4 linked regions of the Homo sapiens genome follow. The protein of the gene in region 1 purifies or fractionates together with the protein of each later gene. This does not show direct contact. Each region holds a gene or a part of one and is shown in the gene's direction. Other genes may lie near its edges.

The links. Proteins that work in one complex are often made in the same cells at the same time.
Region 2: the proteins of HIBADH (region 1) and PICALM fractionate together in Homo sapiens (co-fractionation; one large-scale study listed by BioGRID). This does not show direct contact.
Region 3: the proteins of HIBADH (region 1) and PEX7 purify together in Homo sapiens (co-immunoprecipitation; one large-scale study listed by IntAct). This does not show direct contact.
Region 4: the proteins of HIBADH (region 1) and RNASEH1 purify together in Homo sapiens (affinity purification with mass spectrometry; one large-scale study listed by BioGRID and IntAct). This does not show direct contact.

What each region holds. Positions count from the first base shown.
Region 1 is NC_000007.14:27,529,537-27,535,032, reverse strand, and holds part of HIBADH (3-hydroxyisobutyrate dehydrogenase, mitochondrial isoform 1 precursor), read left to right. Parts: intron 1-3,684; coding exon 3,685-3,841; intron 3,842-5,496.
Region 2 is NC_000011.10:85,956,229-85,960,056, reverse strand, and holds the end of PICALM (phosphatidylinositol-binding clathrin assembly protein), read left to right. Parts: intron 1-996; coding exon 997-1,011; 3' UTR 1,012-2,882; downstream 2,883-3,828. UniProt on the Homo sapiens protein: Cytoplasmic adapter protein that plays a critical role in clathrin-mediated endocytosis which is important in processes such as internalization of cell receptors, synaptic transmission or removal of apoptotic cells.
Region 3 is NC_000006.12:136,827,915-136,833,037, forward strand, and holds part of PEX7 (peroxisomal biogenesis factor 7), read left to right. Parts: intron 1-5,123. UniProt on the Homo sapiens protein: Receptor required for the peroxisomal import of proteins containing a C-terminal PTS2-type peroxisomal targeting signal. Specifically binds to cargo proteins containing a PTS2 peroxisomal targeting signal in the cytosol.
Region 4 is NC_000002.12:3,544,388-3,549,510, reverse strand, and holds part of RNASEH1 (ribonuclease H1 isoform 1 precursor), read left to right. Parts: intron 1-398; coding exon 399-453; intron 454-786; coding exon 787-871; intron 872-1,455; coding exon 1,456-1,580; intron 1,581-3,619; coding exon of another isoform or gene 3,620-3,639; coding exon 3,640-3,726; 3' UTR 3,727-5,123. UniProt on the Homo sapiens protein: Endonuclease that specifically degrades the RNA of RNA-DNA hybrids.

The sequences.
Region 1 (5,496 bases):
ACCACCTACTTAATAGTCAACTACTAGCCAGTACGATGGCATTTGGGCATACATGTAGGTCTGCATTCAAGCTGTCCCACAGACTTAAGCTTTTCTCATTTATAAAATGACAAAAGTGATTACATCTATCCACTGGGTTGTTGTGAAGATTAAGTGAGTTAATCCATATAAAACTTATTAAATAGTTTCTGGCACATAGTAGGTGTCGATATGTGGTAATGATATTTGTGGTTGTGGTGAGGTGGTTATTGTTTGAAATTAAATTGTACTTTAATCTTTTTCTTCCTAACATGTCTCACTAGCTGGCATTACATATTTATTTGTCTGTTTATTACCTGTCTTCCCATCTAGAAGCTCCATGATGGGAAATGGTTTGTTTACTCATTGCCATATCTTAAGAATATACCTGGCAGGTATTAGGCACCCAGTGAAGATTTGTCAGATAAATAAGGAGAGGAGGGAGGAGGTAGGGGAGTGAGTGAGTGAGGGGATAAGATATGGCACTTCTCTTGCCAAAGGTAAAAGTTATCCAGGTGGGTCTTAACTCAGCCCTCCTGGCAGACAGGCACAGCCTCCTCTTAGCTTCCTTCTTACTGTCTCCTTCGCTGCACGTGTAGCACTTGGATATAGCAGATCTGAGTAAACATTGATGGATAAGTGATTGATTAATTAAAACTGACATGGTCTTAGATGTTTCATTTCCAGATCTGTTCCTGTGATACAAACATCCCAGTTTAGTGACATAATTTATTTCGTTCTTACGTGAAACCAGACAGTATAGATTACTCACAGATAATATAAACAAACATTTTTGGCCCTTAAAGTCTTGGTTACAGTGAAGGCAAATGTTTAATTTTTTAAATTTTTTTGCAGTTTATGCATTATTTTTACTTCTTCCAAACCTCATTTAAAATTCTTGTTTTAGAGGTGAGTAGATTTGACACAGTGACGTTTATTTGAGACGCATTATATATGCAGTCAGAGCGATGAATTCATTCTGTTTATATCAGAGAACATTCCAGCAATTGTAAAGCCACATGCATGCACGCATGCACTCTCGAACCACATCCAGTGGCAAGTTATTATGGGGACTGACAGACTGTCATTCTTTTGATGGCTTGAGCTGTATATCTTCTGAACAGCAATGGGGCTCTTATGCAGAAAGTATCATATGTTCCCAGCCAATTTACAGGGAAACAGCAATAACATTTTATCATGGTTGAGAGCCCAGTAGCTGCTTCCTATTAAACTTGCCCTTTCAGATACCTGTCTTGGATTAATTTGTTGATTTCGAATGGAAACTCAGTCTTCTCCAGTGAAGCATGACGTTCTAGGATAGACTCTGAATGACAATTACTGTGTATTCTAGCTGGTTTCAGACCATTACAAGCCTTGGGCACAGTGGAAAACAGAGGACTTCAGTAACTGATTTTAATATCATGTCTAATTTTAACTGTCAGTTATGTATGTGCCAGAGAACGAATCCTCAGAAAGATGAAATGCAAAACACTTCTAACTTGCTCTTTTTAATGATACACTTTGCTGCGGGTGGGGGCAGGGGGAGGGAAGTGGAGAGGGAATAACTATCTCCTGAAGGGAATCAGCACGGTGGGGAAGCATCAGATTTGAAAAGTGAGAATGAAACAACTGCCACCTGATTTTTTGTGTGTGCCCCTCAGGATGCTTCTAAATAGTAATGTGTTCACCAGAAAGGGTTTCCATCAATCAATACCAGTACTTTTCCTTGAACATTCAAGAAAAATGTAGGGTTTTACAAAGTTAGGATAATTAGCTTTGCTCACCATTTTGTTGAATATTATAGAAAAGAGTGAATTTCCTTAGCTGTAAAAGCTCTTGTGAGCTACTACTGAGTGTAACCTGGTAGATTAGAAAGAAGGAAGGAATTCTGCTGCTTTAAATATGATGAACCATCTTAAAAGATCTAAGTTAGGAAGCCCTGAAATTATATTTCAAATGGAGAGAGAAAGTGACGTTTTGGAGTCTTTAAAAGTATTTTCTCCTTATGGAGCATATTAGATGTATGCATTCTTGAACATTTGGTACTTTGCAGTTATAGCAAATTAACTAATTGTTAATTGTGATTTTACTTTTCACAATTATTCCCTAAGCACACTGGCTTTATCTTTTCCTAAGTGATATACTACAGTAGCATACTGATAGCCTAATCTTATTTAAAAGGAGAAAGCAAGCATCAGTAGCATACTATGCATGCAGTGAACTTGGATCTTTATAAAAGAATGAATGAAACTGTTGGGTTTCTCTCTGGGAATCTACAGTTGAACAGAATGAATGATAGCCAATTTAGACTGAATTTCTGTATCTGTTACAATCCTTAGTAAAATCCATCACTATAACATGGGCCACCATATGAATTCAGATACATGATATGCCACATAGCAGTCTGGGAACCACAGCTACCCCTTGAAAGCCTGATTACATAACAGTTGTATTATGTGGTAATTCCATACATATTTTTGGCTGTTAGCCTCAGCCCCCTGCTCTAGCATCTGAAAAAATGTTTTATTGGCCATGATATTCAGATTTTGAAATAAACAGGCATGTGTTTTAGACACACAGAGTAAACAATCTGAGCGTGCCAAGATGCACAGTTTGTTTAACATTTACATAAGTGTCTCTTTTCAGTGTTTTTTTTATTTTCTGGAAGAGGTTGGTTTTAAGAAAAAGTGGAAAGCTTTTATGACAATTGTTTCATAATGGCTCTGTGTATGAAAGAAACCAAATAAATTGCTAGGAATAAAGTTTTATTTGAAACTTGATTCAGTGATACCTAGCAAAATTGTGCTTCCCAAACTGCATTATATCTTTAGAATCCAAGTAATGGAGCATTTTGATTCTATTATTTTTTCTAGGGTCCACATTGAACAGCCGTTTATGCCATCAGCCCAGTGATAGAACAAATGATGTTTCTGCTTGGGCAAGCTTTGTTTTATCAGGATCAGTAACCTTATCAGCAGTTGACCCAGAACTATAATGCATGTCTCTGAATAGATAGCATATGTCACAACTCTGTGCAGACTTGCTTCATAAGCAAGATTGTCTAATAAAGATTTAATAAATAAGGAAAAGTTTGCAGCAAAAAGTCTTCTTTTATAATAACTTTTCTTAAGCTCGTTTACAGCTCCTGGCTCATCTCTTGCATTTATTCTCATAAAAACTAAAGGAATAAACATACATATAAATGCATTCACACAGACTCCCATGATGCATCGTTTATCTGTCAGTATTTCTTTCTGAAATATATCATTTGTGGGTAAAGAATGTAGAATTTAAATTATCATATTGTTTTAAGGTTCTTATGTGACATATAAATGTAGTAATGTCCAAAGACTAGAAAACCCATGAGTGTGATAAACCAACAATATTTTTATGCAATTGTATATTATTTTTTCTTAATAATAGGATAACATAGAAGGTTTTCTCCAAATGCAAAATGGTCCTGGCTCAAAAATATTCTTATTTAACCAGTAGTGTTTAGTACTCTATAATTCAAAATTGGATTCTTCACTCTCGTATCAACCTGCTTAGATTTTAGAAGACATATAATAAATGGAGAGAGAAGATGGAGCATCCCCATACATAAATAAGTCACGCACGACGTGTACATTTTGACACTTAACACTTCTTTTCTTTGACCTTTGACAGGTTAGGGCTTGACCCAAAACTACTGGCTAAAATCCTAAATATGAGCTCAGGACGGTGTTGGTCAAGTGACACTTATAATCCTGTACCTGGAGTGATGGATGGCGTTCCCTCGGCTAATAACTATCAGGGTGGATTTGGAACAACACTCATGGCTAAGGTATGGTAAATGTAGACACCCAAGAGAGAAGGAAAAACGTTTCACGGTCCAATAACACCTTCCTTCTCTTTCTCTTAATAAAGCATATGTCTCAGGTAAGAGGCAAAATTACTAGAATATTCACTCTCACTGAAAATGAGTAAAAACCTAACTTAGATGAAAATCCTTATCTTGTTCATTTTTATTCCTGGCCTTTTGGTTGAGAAGAATGGGCCAGACCATGTGTGTGTGTGTATGTGTGTGCGTGTGTGTGTGTGTGCGCACTTGGGTTTATTTATATGAGCCGGTAAAATTTCGTTCACCATTAATTTATGTTAATTTACCAACTTCTTAAATGAGAACAGTGAGAATTTTCTCATTGTTAATAATACACTGGCAGTGCATATATGCATCACGAAGAGAGGATTTTCCCATTGATAATAGATTTCCAAATACATCTTCCTGCTTTAAGATTTTAATATATGGATTTATATATAAAAACTAGTTAAGTCATTGGAAAAGCAAACTGTCATCCTTCTCTTATTTGAGATCTCAACTTTAGAAAGTCTATGTTCTCAACTACAGAAAATAATTTTTAGACCAGCTAACTTTCAGATTTCTGCAGTGCTTATTTTCTCCCAGTTGAGGGTTGGTTTTTGTTTGTTTGTTTGTTTGTTTGTTTTTCCTGATTAAAAAGTAAGAATACGGCCAGGCGCGATAGCTCATGCCTTTAATCCCAGCATTTTGGGAGGCCGAGGAGGGCAGATCACCTGAGGTCAGGAGTTCGAGACCAGCCTGGCTAACATGGTGAAACCCAGTTTCTACTAAAAATAAAAAAAATTAGTCGGGCGTGGTGGTGCGTGTCTGTAAGCCCAGCTACTCAGGAGGCTGAGGCAGGAGAATCGCTTGAACCCGGGAGGTGGAGATGGCAGTCAGCTGAGATAGCACCATTGCACTCCAGCCTGGGCAACAGAGTGAGACTTCGTCTCAAATAGAAAAAAAAAAAGAAAAAGAATACATATACCTAGATACCACACAAGCATACCTTGGAGATATTGTGGGTTCAGTTCCAGACAACCACAACAAGTCACACAAATTTTTTGGTTTCCCAGTACATATAAAAATTACGTTTATACTATGCCATAGTCTATTAAGTGTGCATTAGCATTATGTCTAAACAATATACGTATCTTAATTTTAAAATGCTCTATTGCTAAAAAAGCTAACAATTATCTGAGCCTTCAGTGAGTCATATAGTCCTTTTTTGCTGGTGGAAGGTCTTGCCTTGAGGTTGATGAATGGTGATTGACCAGGGTGGCGGTTGCTGAAGGTTGGGTGGCTATGACAATTTCTTAAAATAGGACAGTAATGAAGTTTAAGTTTACTGCATTGATTTACTCATCCTTTCACAGAAGATTTATGTGCTACTGTTTGATAGCATTTTACCCACAGTAGAACTTCTTTCAAAAACGGAGGCAATCCTCTCAAACCCTGATGCTACTTTATCAACTAAGTTTGTGTAATATTCTAAATCCTTTCTGTCATTTCACCAGGAGTAGATCCATCTCAAGAAACCACTTTCTTTGCTCATCCATAAGAAGCAACTCCTCATCCCTTCAAGTTTAGCACAAGATTGTAGTAATTCAGTCACATCTGCAGGCTCCACTTCTAATTCT
Region 2 (3,828 bases), on another chromosome or scaffold:
AATTGTATATCATTTGGAAATAATATTTCAAATTTTGCTTCCCAAATGAGATTTTGCTTGTGGTATTTGTGCTTATGGAGAGATTTTTCTGAACTTGTCATGAAAAAATAGGTCATTGATCTTCTTTCTTTTCCTCCTCCACATGCTATTCCTCTATTTTTAGCAGTTAAGTATTTGGCCTGGATGTGGTTGCTTATGCCTGTAATCCCAGCACCCTGGGAGGCTGATGCGGGAGGATCACTTGGGGCTAGTAGTTCAAGATCAGCCTGGGCAATACGGTGAGACCCTAGTCTCTACCCCCACCCAAAAATTACCCAGGTGTGGTGGCGACTGTCTGCAGTCCTAGCTATTCAGGAGGCTGAGGCAGGAGGGTTGCTTGAGCCCAGGAGTTCCAATGAGCTTTTTTTTTTTTTTTTTTTTTTTGAGATGGAGTTTCGCTCTTGTCTCCCAGGCTGGAGTGCAGTGGCACGATCTCAGCTCACTGCAACCTCCACCTCCTGGGTTCAAGCCATTCTCCTGCCTCAGCCTCCCGAGTAGCTAGGATTACAGGCGCCCGCCACCACGCCTGGCTAATTTTTGTATTTTTAGTAGAGACGGGGTTTCACCATATTGGCCAGGCCAGTCTCGAACTCTCGAACTCACCTCAGGTGATCTGCCCACCTCAGCCTCCCAGAGTGCTGGGATTACAGGTGTGAGCTATGGTGCCCAGCCATTGAGCTTTGATCATGCCACTGCAATCCAGCCTAGACAGCAGAGCAAGACTCTGTCTCAAAAACAACAACAAAAAACATTATTTGGAAGTCCCTATATGTGTCAAATATTGAGCTTTCTGGCACATAAGTTGATAATACTGACTTTGTTTTATAAACAGGGTTTGTGATAAGCATGTTGTGAACACTTCTGGGCCAGTTAAATGGTAAAGACCACAAAGCATTTTTATTTATGAGAAGACATCCTACAATACAATGAATTAACATACCCACTTTTTTTTTCCAGATACAGTTTATGTAACTTGATGGAAGAAAATGGAATTACTCCAAAAAGACAAGTGCTCAAGCAGCAAAATCCTTACTTCCAGCAAAATCCAAACTGCTGTCTCTTAAATCTCTTAAACTCTCTTCTTCCATTAGAATGCTACAAGTAACTCAGTGAAGGCCCATGAAGGAAATTGGGACTAGTTTATAGGAGAACGTATCAATACAGTTTATAAAGCCAAGAATTGCTATGATTTAAGACTAAGATCTGTCTTTTTGGTGACTAACCCTTCAATTCTTTCAACTCCTGTTAATACCCATAATCAGTAACCTATCAAGAAAAGCCCTTATTTGGAAAGTGTGAAATTTGTATTTGGAAAAGCTGCCTGGAGAGAAGAACTGTGTCCTTTACTGTATTTCAACAGGACTCTTTTGGGGGATCAAAATTAAAATTCCTAATTATGCATTATCTTTCTTTTCTCCAGTCCTCACAAATACAGAAACAATAACTGAAATTAACTTTTCTTTTTTTAAAAAAAATTATATTCAGTTTGCAGTAGACATTCCTTAAGTATTTGTATTTATTTATGATTATCAATTTTACATAACATTAATATTGTATCAGACCTCCTTATGAAAATGAGTATGGATGTGCACAGTATGTTTGATTTTTATCCACAAGAATGAATCTGATTCAGAATGCTTTTCTCAGCTGACATACAGAGCACTAAATATTTTAAGGCAAGTCCATAGGTCTGAATCTCTTAAGAATTCTCGGCCTCTGTGGGATTTAGGGAAGCATTATAAATGCATTAATCCTTATAGTCAATTCTGTGCCTAGGATTTTGCCAGGGAACAGTTCACTGACTAGGAAAAGCACTACATTTTAAATTCAGCATTAGTGCATTGGGAAGGATCTTTACTGCTTTGTGCTTGGCATGTCATTATTTTCCATTTGACATTAGGGCCTTTCCAAAATGAATGTGAGGAATTGCTTTCACTTCAAGACTTTCCTTCTTTTCACTAAAACTCTAGAAGGTGTTACAAGGGGGAGGGAAGGGGGGCAAAGTCCTTGAACATTTTCTTTGGCTCGTGCCATGTTATGATCATATACCTTTTAAATAAGGGGAAATAGTATCTTTAAAGTTAATGTCTAGCCAAGAGTTTAGTAAACGAAGAATTAAACTGCACTGTTGATCGGTGCTTTGTGTAAATACATCTTTAACATTTGGGTGGAGAGGGGCCTTAAGAAGGACAGTTCATTGTAGGAAAGCAATTCTGTACATGAGTTTAAGCATTCTTGTTGCATTGTCTCTGCAGATTCTATTTTTGTTTACAATATTAAAATGTATGTTAGCAAAATGGGTGGATTTTCAAATAAAATGCAGCTTCCACAAAAGTTTTGTTATGGTATTCTGGTCTGAGATGCATTTTCATTTTTCCTTTCTCTTTTTATTATCAATATTGTCATTTTTCCCTAATAAAATATACCCAGGTGATTATATTTGTTGATCTAATAACATGGAAGGTTTGTTTTATATGAATTTTCAAAAAGATGTCTCTTTACACTTTTTGTTACCTTGTAGACTCTTATTGATAAATGCAACTACTTATTAAAATTGTTCACTTTTTGTCTTTTGATCAGATGCCTTTAGTCAGGTAAGTTTAAGGGAAAATACGCAGTTTAATGTTTTGGTACATATAATTATGTCTGCCAAAGAAACCTTTGATTGTATCATATTGCCTATTTAGTAGTGCATAGGGTTCAGAGTACATGATAAAGGATCAAAAGCTTTGCATTGATAAGTGTCTCATAATATTTGCTGTGATTGGAGAAAAAATGTAGTCGTAGCCAATAAATTTTATCAGCTTTTAAGTTTCAGTATTATTAAACCATTTTCATATAAACTGGGAAGTTGTACTTTTATAAGTTACCCTCCTTAACTTTACAAATTTTTGTCTCTTGTGGTGTTTGAGGAGGTGTTTATATTTAAGGTCTGTGGCTTGTTTTCTTTCATATTGCCTTTTTTTTTTTAAGTATGTTTCAGTATGTGACGTGCTTCATAGCCATTTTTATTTCATTGTTTAAACAACTTTTGGGCTATGTTTGATAAGTGTTATCCATATTTTACCCATTTTATATGTAGGAATCAGAAATCAGAAAAGGAGCTGGGTGCAGTGGCTCACACCTGTTATTCCAGTAATTTGGGAGGCTGAGGTACATGATCACTTGAGCCCAGGAGTTCAAGACCAGCCTGGGCAACATGGTGAAACGCTATCTGTACCAAAAATACAAAAATTAGCCAGGTATATGCCTATAGTCCCAGCTACTTGGGAGACTGAAGTGGTAGGATCACCCGAGTCCAGGATGTTGAGGCTGCAGTGAGCTGGGATCATGCCACTGCATACTCCACCCTGGGTGACAGAGTGAGACCCTGTTTAAAAAAAAAAGGAACTTGCCCAGATGAGTAAGTTAACAGATGGAAATCAAATCTTTGCTTTCATGGTCCATTGTTCTCTCTGTGACCTGCTGTCACGTAATTCATATATATATACTGACATGGAGATTGTTTCCCTCTGCAATCTAGACTGATGGCCACTCTTTATTCCCAGTGGTCTTTAGTGAAGTACATTTCCTGCCTCCTCCTCTGATGCCCAGACATCGTTGACAAGGAAGAATGCAAACATGCGACAAGAGCAACTTTAACCAAAATATAATGAGTGAAGTAAATCAGCTATTGATTACATAATTACATCAGGCTGTAAACTCATACATGCTCATGTCATTTTACTATCCAGTTAGCAAGTAGCTATTGGCTGAGATAAGAGAGAAGATTGTAAGCAGAGGACAACT
Region 3 (5,123 bases), on another chromosome or scaffold:
GATGTTTGACATCTTTTTATACCACTTGTATTATAATGTATTTCTTTTCCTTCTTTCTTTTTTAAAAAATATTTTTCTTTTCAGAAGTTTTTTTTTTCCTTTTTCTTAAATCTTTGGTGCCTTTTATTATCTATATAAATTCAAGGATGATAACTGACATCATAAAATAATATAGCTAGTTAAGGTAAATTCAATATATTGACTTAATGTTTTTCTTTCAATCAAGTAAAGTCGTTGCTTCATTTATCCTAAAACAGTAATATTCATGAAACAATGGGGTTGATGGCTACTTTAGTATGTACATTTATTTGTTTTTAGTGTACATTGAGATAAGTAAGTAATGAATAAAATAAATGTATGTACCAGTTAAAATAATCTCTGGTGTAACTACTCTCTGGAAAATACTGTTCTAGGATATCCTGGATGGATGCTCACTCAGTCTTTACTTCCTGTCAGTGAAAGTAAATTTCACTTTCTCTTGAGATAACTTATTTGACTTTTAGGTTGTTCTGATTATTAAGAAACTGCTTCTTGTAATCCCAACTCTACCTTCTATAGCAACCAACTGCTGCTTTTAGTGTCTTTCTCTGAAGTGGCAAGACCAGGTCCAGCCCCTCTTGTCCAGGAAACCTCTTGAAAATAGCCATCGTGCTCTCTTCCAGACTGTGCACTTGTCATTTCATTGTCCTGTCCTCAGATGACATGATCTGTACGTCTTTCATCCTTCTGATAGCCTCCTTTGATAATCCTGTTTTTCAACTCCCCTTTCAACATATACCTAATTTATTCCAGAAATGTGATGAAGGGCTAAGCTTTATAAGATTTTACCACCATAGTCTTGAGCCCCTAGCTCTAATAATATTACCTAAAGTGGCTATACATTGTTCTCAGCCATGTCTTAGTGTTAGGTTACTTTGAGTCTGCTAGTAACACACTTACCTCTTTTGTTATTTGAACTGCTATTAAACCAGTTTTACATCATTCTGTGATTTTGCAGCTGATTTCTTGAACCGAAGACACACTTCTGTTTTTTAATTTTTTAAATTTGTTTTGCGTACTGCTATTCTAGTTAGACTTCCTCGTTTTCTTTTCAAATGCACTTTTTGGTAAGCGTTTGTATCAGGATGCCTTGAATGTTAGTGTAATAGAAAACAATTAAATGGCTTCAACAGTCAGAGTTTACTGTTTCACATATTTTGCTTGGTTATGTGAAAAATAAATGAAGATAACCTTTTTAGGTATTTGTTACAGCAGCACCCCTAATTCTTGGCACCAGTTTCTGCCTCAGTCTGTTCAGGCTGCTGTAACAAAGTATTATAGACTGGGTGCCTTATAAAGAACAGAAATTTATTTCTTACTATTCTGGAGGTTGGAAGTCCAAGGTCAGGGTGCCCACATGTTTGGGTTCTGATGAGGGCCCTCTTTTAGGTCAAAGACTACTGCTGTCTTTTCATTGTATCTGCAGGTGGTGGAAAGAGAATGAGAGAGGTTTGGGAAATCCCTTTTATAAGAGCACTAATCCCATTCATGAGGGCTCTACATTCATGACCTAATTACCCCCCAGAGGCCCTACGTCCTAAAACCATTACACTGGGGGGTTAAGATTTCAACATGTGGGTTTTGTGGGGATATATTCAGTCCATTGCATATGCCAGATACTCAAAAATACTTAAAAGGATTTAAGCTCAAATGAGAGTTTTAAGGAGCTAGTAAATATTTGTTGAATAAATTAATAAATGAGGCTGAGTGCAGTGAGTCATGCCTGTAATCCTAACACTTTGGAAGGTCGAGGTGGGCAGATCACTGAAGGCCAGGAGTTTGGGACCAGCCTGGCCAACATGGCGAAAACCCCGCCTCTACTAAAAATAAAAAAATTAGCTGGGTGTGGTGGTGCACACCTGTAGTCCCAGCTATTTGGTGGCTGAGGCACAAGAATCATTTGAGCATGGGAGGTGGAGGTTGCAGTGAGCTGAGTTCGTGCCATTGCACTCCAGCCTGGACAACAGAGTGAGACCCTGTCTTAAAAGAAAGTTATTAAAAAAAAAAGTTGATAATGAACATAGCCAATTTCTGTTTTTTTTTTTTCCACCAGTATGTTCAGGGAAGCTGTGTTGTGAAATAGAAGAGCAACTAATGGGTCATTTTCTTCTGTGGAAGAGAGTATATAATAAAGACGTATAGCATGGTTTTAGTCAATCTTGGATTTGAATCCCAGCTTTGTAAGTTACCTGTTGTGAGACCTTGCGTATGTCACATATTTTTCCTAAACTTGAGTGTTTTTATTTGCAAACTAAGTTTATTAGTAGTCTGTATCACAGACCAGCATTGAATAAATATGAGCTAGTATTATTATTTGCTCTTATTATAATAGGGTTTGAAAAATGTAAAACAAGTTAGAACTTTTCCAGTTACCCACTTTACCACTTGATGGCTATGTGTCCAACAGTCAATTTTCAAGTTGTCAGATGAAGCAAAAAAGAGAAATCCAAGATTTAGATATATTTTAGGCTTTGAGGAGTGAAGGTCTTGGTGAAATGAAAAGAAAGAAAAACATGGACATTATCTGTGTGAATGGTTGCTAAACCTAGCATCGAAGTAGGAATCAAATTCTTCTGTCTATTGTTTAACTGGTGTCTGCAGAGGTCATTATGTCTTTTGAGTCCCATAAAATGCCTTTGGCTTTGCTTATTCTAATGCTGCTGAATATATAATAAAAATTTTTAAAAGTTCAGTGAGAATAGAAAAATAAGAGTGAATTGACAATTTTATTTCACTGCTTTCTGACTTAAAACACTGTGCTACTGAGAGTGAGTTAAAGTGACTTTAAAGATGACATAAATCAATGTAATATATTAATTTCTAATTTTCAGACTAATGAGTTGGCTTATCACAATTTAAAAATGAGTTAAAATTTGTTCTCATAGTCAAATAACAAGGTTTATCAATTTGCTGAATTTTTATAACATATTTGATCCATTGAGGTTTTTGAGCATTGCTTATAAAAACTTATTTTTGACCTAAGTATACAACTATTAGTATTCTGTTATGGAGGAAATGTATTTGCTTATACATTTCAAGAGTTAAAATCTTGTTTACTTTAAAAAATGAATCAATTATTTACTTTTTGATAATGATAGAAGCTGAGAAGTCAATAATGATAGGTATTGTATTAGTCTGTTTTCACATTGTTATAAAGAAATACCTGAGAGTGGGTAATTTATAAAGGAAAGAGGTTTAATTGACTCACAGTTCCACATGACTGGGGAGGCCTCAGGAAACTTAAAATTATGGCAGAAGGTGAAGGGGAAGTAGATAACCTTCTTCACAAGGCAGCAGGAGAGAGAGAAAGAGAGAGAGAGAAAGCAGGGGAAACTGCCACTTTTAAAGCCATCAGATCTTTTGAGAACTCCCTCACTATCACAAGAACAGCATGGGGGAAACTGCCCCCATGATCCGATCACTTCCTACCGGGTTCCTCCCTGGACACATGGGGATTACAATTCAAGATGAGATTTGGGTGGGGATATAAAGCCAAACCATATCATTCCACTCCTGGCGCCTCCCAAATTTCATGTCTTTTTCACATTTCAAAACCAATCATGACTTTCCAACAGTCCCCCAAAGTCTTAACTTATTCCAGCATTAACCCAAAAGTCCAAGTCCAAAGTCTCATCTGAGACAAGGCAAGTCCCTTTTGCCTATGAGCCTATAAAATAAAAAACAAGTTAGTTACTTCTAAGATACAGTAGGGCTATAGGCATTAGCTAAATGTTTCAAATGGGAGAAATTGGCCAAAACAAAGGGGCCACAGGCCCCATGCAAGTCTGAAACCCAGCAGTGCAGTTACTAAATCTTAAAGCTCTGAAATGATCTCCTTTGACTCCATATCTCACATCCAAGGGGTAGGCTCCCATGGCCTTGGGCAGCTCTACCCTTGTAGCTCTGAAAGGTGCAGTCCTTATGGCTGCTTTCACTGGCTGGCATTGAGTGCCTGTGGCTTTTCCAGCTGTACAATACAAGCTGTCAGTGAATCTACCTTTCTGGGGCCTGGGGGACAGTGGCTCTCTCCTCACAACTCCAGTAGGCAGTGCCCCAGTGGGGACTGTGTGGGGCCTTCAACCCCACATTTTCCTTCTGTACTGCCCTAGCAAAGGTTCTCCATGAGGGCTCCTCCCTTGCAGCAGACTTCTGCCTGGACATTCAGGTGTTTCCATACATCCTCTGAAATTTAGGTGGAGGTTAAACTCTTGTCTTCTAAACTCTTCTTGTCTTCTGTGTACCCACAGACCCAACACCACATGGAAGCTGCCAAGGTTTAGGGCTTGCACCCTCAGAAGCAATGGCTTGAGCTGTACCTTGGCTCCTTTTAGCCATGGCTGGAGCTAGAGCAGCTGGATGCAGGGCACCATGTCTTGAGGCTGCACAGAGCAGCAGGGCCACTCAGGCCCACAAAACCATTTTTCCCTCCTAGGCCGCTGGGCCTGTGATGGGAGGGGCTTCTGCAAATGTCTCTGACATGCCTTGGATACATTTTTCCCATTGTTTTGGCTATTAATATTTGGCTCCTTGTTACTTATACAAATTTCTGCAGCAGGTTTGAATTTCCCCCCAAGAAATAGGTTTTTCTTTTCTACCTCATGGTTAGGTTGCAAATTTTCTGAACTTTTATGCTGTGCTTCCCTTTTAAATATAAGTTCCAAATTCAAATAATCTCTTCATGAATGCATGTGACTATACACTTTTAGAAACAACCGGGTCACTTCTTGAATGCTTTGGTGCTTAGAAATCTCTTTCACCAGACACTCTAAATCATCTCTCTCAAATTCAAGCTTCCACGGATCTCTAGGGCAGGGGCAAAATGCCACCAGTCTCTTTGCTAAAGCATTGCATGAATGACCTTTACTCCAGTTCCCAGTAAGTTCGTCATCTCTATTTGAGACCACCTCAGCCTGAACTTCATTGTTCATATCACTATTAGCATTTTGTTCAGAACCATTTAAGAAGTCTTTAAGAATTTCCAAACTTTCCCACATCTTCCTGTCTTCTTCTGAGCCCTCACACTGTTCCAGCCTCTGCCCGTTACCCAGTTCCAAAGTTGCTTTGACATTTTCAGATTATCTTTA
Region 4 (5,123 bases), on another chromosome or scaffold:
AATAACTTGTCTAAGGGTTTTTCTGGTTCCTTGATTTCATTTTCCTCTTTTACTTCCTGGAGGTTTTTAGTAGTTTCAATCTGAAGTCTCACTCTCTCCATTCTTCTTCCCGAGTTTTCTCCTGGGATTCTTTCTGCTGCAGCCATAGGGCCTAACCCAGGGTCCGCAGAGAACCAGCTTTTACTTCCTTTGCCCTAGTGGAACCCATGAGAGTCAGAAGGTGCCCAAGTGTGGAAACCTGTGTGCTGCTCTCTGCTGGGAGTCTGTTAGTTTGATTTTTATATGATGCTTTTATATTTCAAATAAGAATACACACTAGTTTATCGTTATCCATTAAGAAGAATCACTTTGAGAATTCACTTTATACTTTTATTTTCTTTTGTACTGTTTTGAAACAGAAATGTAGGCATTAGACTTCCTGGGCGGCAGACAAACCAAAGAGCGGAAATTCATGTAAGTTATCAGATACGTTTAAGCCTCTCTTTTTTGAGCATTGAGTATGAAATTATCAAATAAACTAATTCTTTTTTTTTCTACCTATACATATAAGATATTTGAAGAGAGACGGGTTTAATAACAATTTTGAAAAATAGGAATTTTGTAGAAAAATTCTAAAAACTTATTTCAAATAGATGTCTACACAGGAGAATTGTATGTATAGTAGTGTTTCATACAGAGAATATAATCAGTACAGAGGGGATGTTTCAATTTCGAAGTACTTTTGAACTTTAGTAATGTCAGAGTTGAACATTTTCTGTAGCATGACTATCGACTTGTCTTTTCAAGGCAGCCTGCAAAGCCATTGAACAAGCAAAGACTCAAAACATCAATAAACTGGTTCTGTATACAGACAGTATGTTTACGATAAATGGTAAGCTTTCACATTTGATTTCTTCTGTTTTTCCAGTAACTGTGAAGGGAAATTGGTAGGAGGTGTTGTAACAGGGCAGGACCCAAATGGGAACGGGGGGATGACATTGGTTTGTCAGGTACCGAGCAAAGAGTGAGGATTTTGGAGTCTCCCTTCTGCTGCTCTGATGTTTTCCACATGCTTATTTCTTTGCCAGGCACTGGAGATGCAGTCAGAAGTGGAAGTGGCTCTTACTTCTAGTCTGTGTGTGTATAAGTCACTTAAGATGGCGTGTTGACTGCTTCTTTGGGAAATGCCCTGAATAGGAGCATGTAGGGGATGCTTACGAGGCTGGGGAAGGCTCCTGGGAGAAATGACATCTTAAGCTGACAGCTGTAGGTAGAATACAAGTTAGGGGAAAGGGAAGAGAGGAGGGTATTTCAGGCTGTGCCAAAGGCCAAAGCAACTAAGGCCAGCTAAGGAAGTGAAGAGTCAAGGATGGTGACTCAGAATACAAGTGGGATCAATTATAAGAGGTAAGACTAAGGAGGTGAAAAAGGCAGGACACTCAAGATTGACTCACCAGTGATCGTGCATTTTTGTAGGTATAACTAACTGGGTTCAAGGTTGGAAGAAAAATGGGTGGAAGACAAGTGCAGGGAAAGAGGTGATCAACAAAGAGGACTTTGTGGCACTGGAGAGGCTTACCCAGGGGATGGACATTCAGTGGGTGAGTATCTTAAATGTTCATGTCCTATGGCCATTATGACCAAATAAGCTAAGTTTACTAGAGATTAATGGTTTATGTAAGTGGTTTAATGACATAACAATTTCCATGATATTAATATCATAATGTATATTACAACGTATTTGAGGCTGGGCGTAGTGGCTCACGCCTATAATCCCAGCACTTTGGGAGGCTGAGGTGGGTGGATCACGAGGTCAGGAGTTCAAGACCAGCCTGGCCAGTATGGTGAAACCCCATCTTTATTAAAAAATACAAAAATTAGCCGGGCATGGTGGTGTGTGCCTGTAGTCCCAGCTACTCAGGAGGCTGAGGCAGGAGAATCACTTGAACCCAGGAGGCGGAAGTTGCAGTGAGCTGAGATCGCGCCACTGCACTCCAGCCTGAGCAACGATATGAGACTCCAAGACCCCGTCTCAAAAAAAAAAAAAAAATATGTGAGCCTGGGCTCAGTGGTTCACATCTGTAACCCAGCACTTTAGGAGGCCCAAATGGCCTGACTACTTAAGCCAAGAAGTTCGAGACCAGCCTGGATAACATGGGGAGACTCTGTTTCTCGAAAAAATAAAAAATTAGCCAGGGGTAGTGGCACATGCCTGTAGTCTAGTTACTCAGGACACTGAGGTGGGAGGATGACTTGAGCTGGGGAGGTCGAGGTTGCAGTGAGCCAAGATTGTACCACTGTACTCTAGCCTGGGCGACAGAGTGAGACCCTGTCTCAGAAAAACAAAACAAACCCACCCACATACACAAATTTGATTATTTTCCTTATCATACAAGTAATACAGTTTTTTGGTTTGGTTTTTGAGACAGGTCTCACTCTGTCACCCCAGGCTATGGCGTGATCTCATTGCAACCTCTGCCTTCTGGGTTCAAGTGATTCTCGTGCCTCAGCCTCCCAAGTATCTGGGATTACAGGCATATGCCACCACGCCTGGCTAATTTTTGTATTTTTAGTAGCGATGGAGTTTTGTCATGTTACCCAGGCTGGTCTTGAACTCTTGATCTCAAACATTCCACCTGCCTTGGCCTCTCAAAGTGCTGGGATTACATTTGTTTTGTGTCACTTCCTATATGTTTTTGTTTTATGACAAAAAGGTTTACAACTAAATCAATAATCATGTCAAACTTTTTTTTATTGTTTTGAGATGGAGTCTCGCACTGTTGCCCAGGCTGGAGTGCAGTGGCGCAATCTCGGCTCGCTGCAACCACAAGTAATACAATTCTAGTGAGAGTGTCACTAGGCATAGAATACACAGGCAGTGTGGTTTGAGGGATGTTCTACAATCCTTATATTTTGTTAAGAACACGAAGTAACACCCAACCTGGGCACATGGCATTACTATGACAGCTGTATGTCACCCTGTTCATTTCTTTGGAATGCATCATAATGTTAAATAAAACTATCAGTGTATTTTGTTTCAAACAATAGTAAGGTTGTATGATTAAAGCCTTGGTAATAGAACTTTTATTCCAAGATGGAAGCACTTTTTAAAATCATAGATCATGTTTATTAAAAAGTTTTTTTCAAGCAATAGAGAACAAATTACACTGCAGCCACTGTCTCAACCCTGCCTTGTTCTGCCTTCCTGGAACCACTGATAATAGTTTGGTAGCCTGATGTGTAAATTTGCTTTGGCAACATAAATGTAAACAGTGGTTAAATAAGTACATTATTTCTGACAGCACTGCAAGGGAAGCGTGTGTGTGTGTTGCATACATATCCGTCCACCCATCTGTACATACATGTGTTTTGCCTGGAAAGCTTATCAAGTCCCATTGATAAGTGGGGAGGAAATAGCAACATGAACGGTAAAATCCAATTTGTGAAAAAACAAAATGGAATGTTCGTAAATCACATCCATTGCGTAAACGCATGAAGAATGGACAGCGTGCTGTTGAGGATCATGTCTGGGGAGAGGAGCGTTGAAGTTGAGCTTATGCTGTGCAGTCTGTTCTGAATGGTTTTTTATGATGACAATATAGTCATGTGTTGCTTATGTAAAGATGAGTAAAAATAAAAGGAAAACATTTATCTTAACAGATGCATGTTCCTGGTCATTCGGGATTTATAGGCAATGAAGAAGCTGACAGATTAGCCAGAGAAGGAGCTAAACAATCGGAAGACTGAGCCATGTGACTTTAGTCCTTGGGAGAACTTGAGCCAGCGGCTGTCTTGCTGCCTGTACTTACTGGTGTGGAAAATAGCCTGCAGGTAGGACCATTGCAGTGATGGGCAGATGCGTCTTTCACACGGAATCAGGCACAGTGGCCTTCTGTGACATGTGTTTATAAAAAATGGTTAAGTATATAATAAATTGAACATCTTTGAGATTGGAGAATTATGTGAGATTTCCACATTATGTTTACTGGGTTCAATACTGTCCTTGCTTGTTTTATTGCAGGCAAGCAAGGCAAATGGCCTAAAATGCTGTGGCTTATATTTTGATAAGAAATCAAAAAACCATTGGTTAAAAGATGCAACTCAGAAGTCTGGAAGTATTCTGAAAGCATCCATTTACCGTCCAGTTGACAGGTTTGAGTCTCCTGCTTGTATAGGTGACTTGTGCCCATGGGTACATTAAAGGAACATGCTGCCCAGGGCCTGGGCGGACAGCTCAGTGGGCAGGATGTGTGCTGGGTCTCAGCCCCATGTGCCTGCTTGCTGGGCAGTTAGTATAGGGCAAAGCCTGCCTGCGGCGACCCTGGCTGCTAGGCCATTCTCTAGGAACAGCTGCGACTCATAAAGACCAAGAAGCATAAATAAACTTTCAAAAATTTATTTGGCTCTTTCGTTAAAAACTGTGCAAATTAAAAAAAAAAAAAAAAAAGTAAGACACCGGCTGGGCACAGTGGCTCACTTCTGTAATCCTAGCACTTTGGGAGGCCAAGGCGGGCAGATCACTTGAGGTCAGGAGTTTGAGACCAGCTTGGCCAACATGACGAAACCCTGTCTCTACTAAAATTACAAAAATTATCCAGGTGTGGTGGCACGGGCTTGTAGTCCCAGCTACTTGGGAGGCTGAGGCACAAGAATCACTTGAACCCAGGCGGCAGAGGTTGCAGTGAGCCAAGATTGCACCACTGCACTCCATCCTGGGCAACAGAGTGAGACTCTGTCTCAAAAAAAAAAAAAAGTAGTAAAAGTTTGACATGATTATTTATTTAGTTTTAAACCTTTTTATTATAAAAACATACAGGAAGTGACACAAAACAAATGTATAGCTTATTGAATGATTATGATTGTAAGGTGAATAACCTTTGTGTCCACCACCTGGTGAAGAAATAGTACTTTGCCAGATACCCCAGGAGGCTCTCCCAAGTGCCCCTCCAGCCACAGCCCTCTTCTTCTCCCCCTCCTTGCCCCAACAAGTAATCCTGACTTTTACAGAAATGACTTTCTTGGTTTTTTGATGGCAGTTTAGTCTTGTCTGCTTTTTTTTGTTTATTTTTTTATCTACTTCAGTGTCCATTTGCAGTCCCGTCGGCCTCACTGTTTTCCCTGCCGTTTATCTGTTGAAGAGCCTG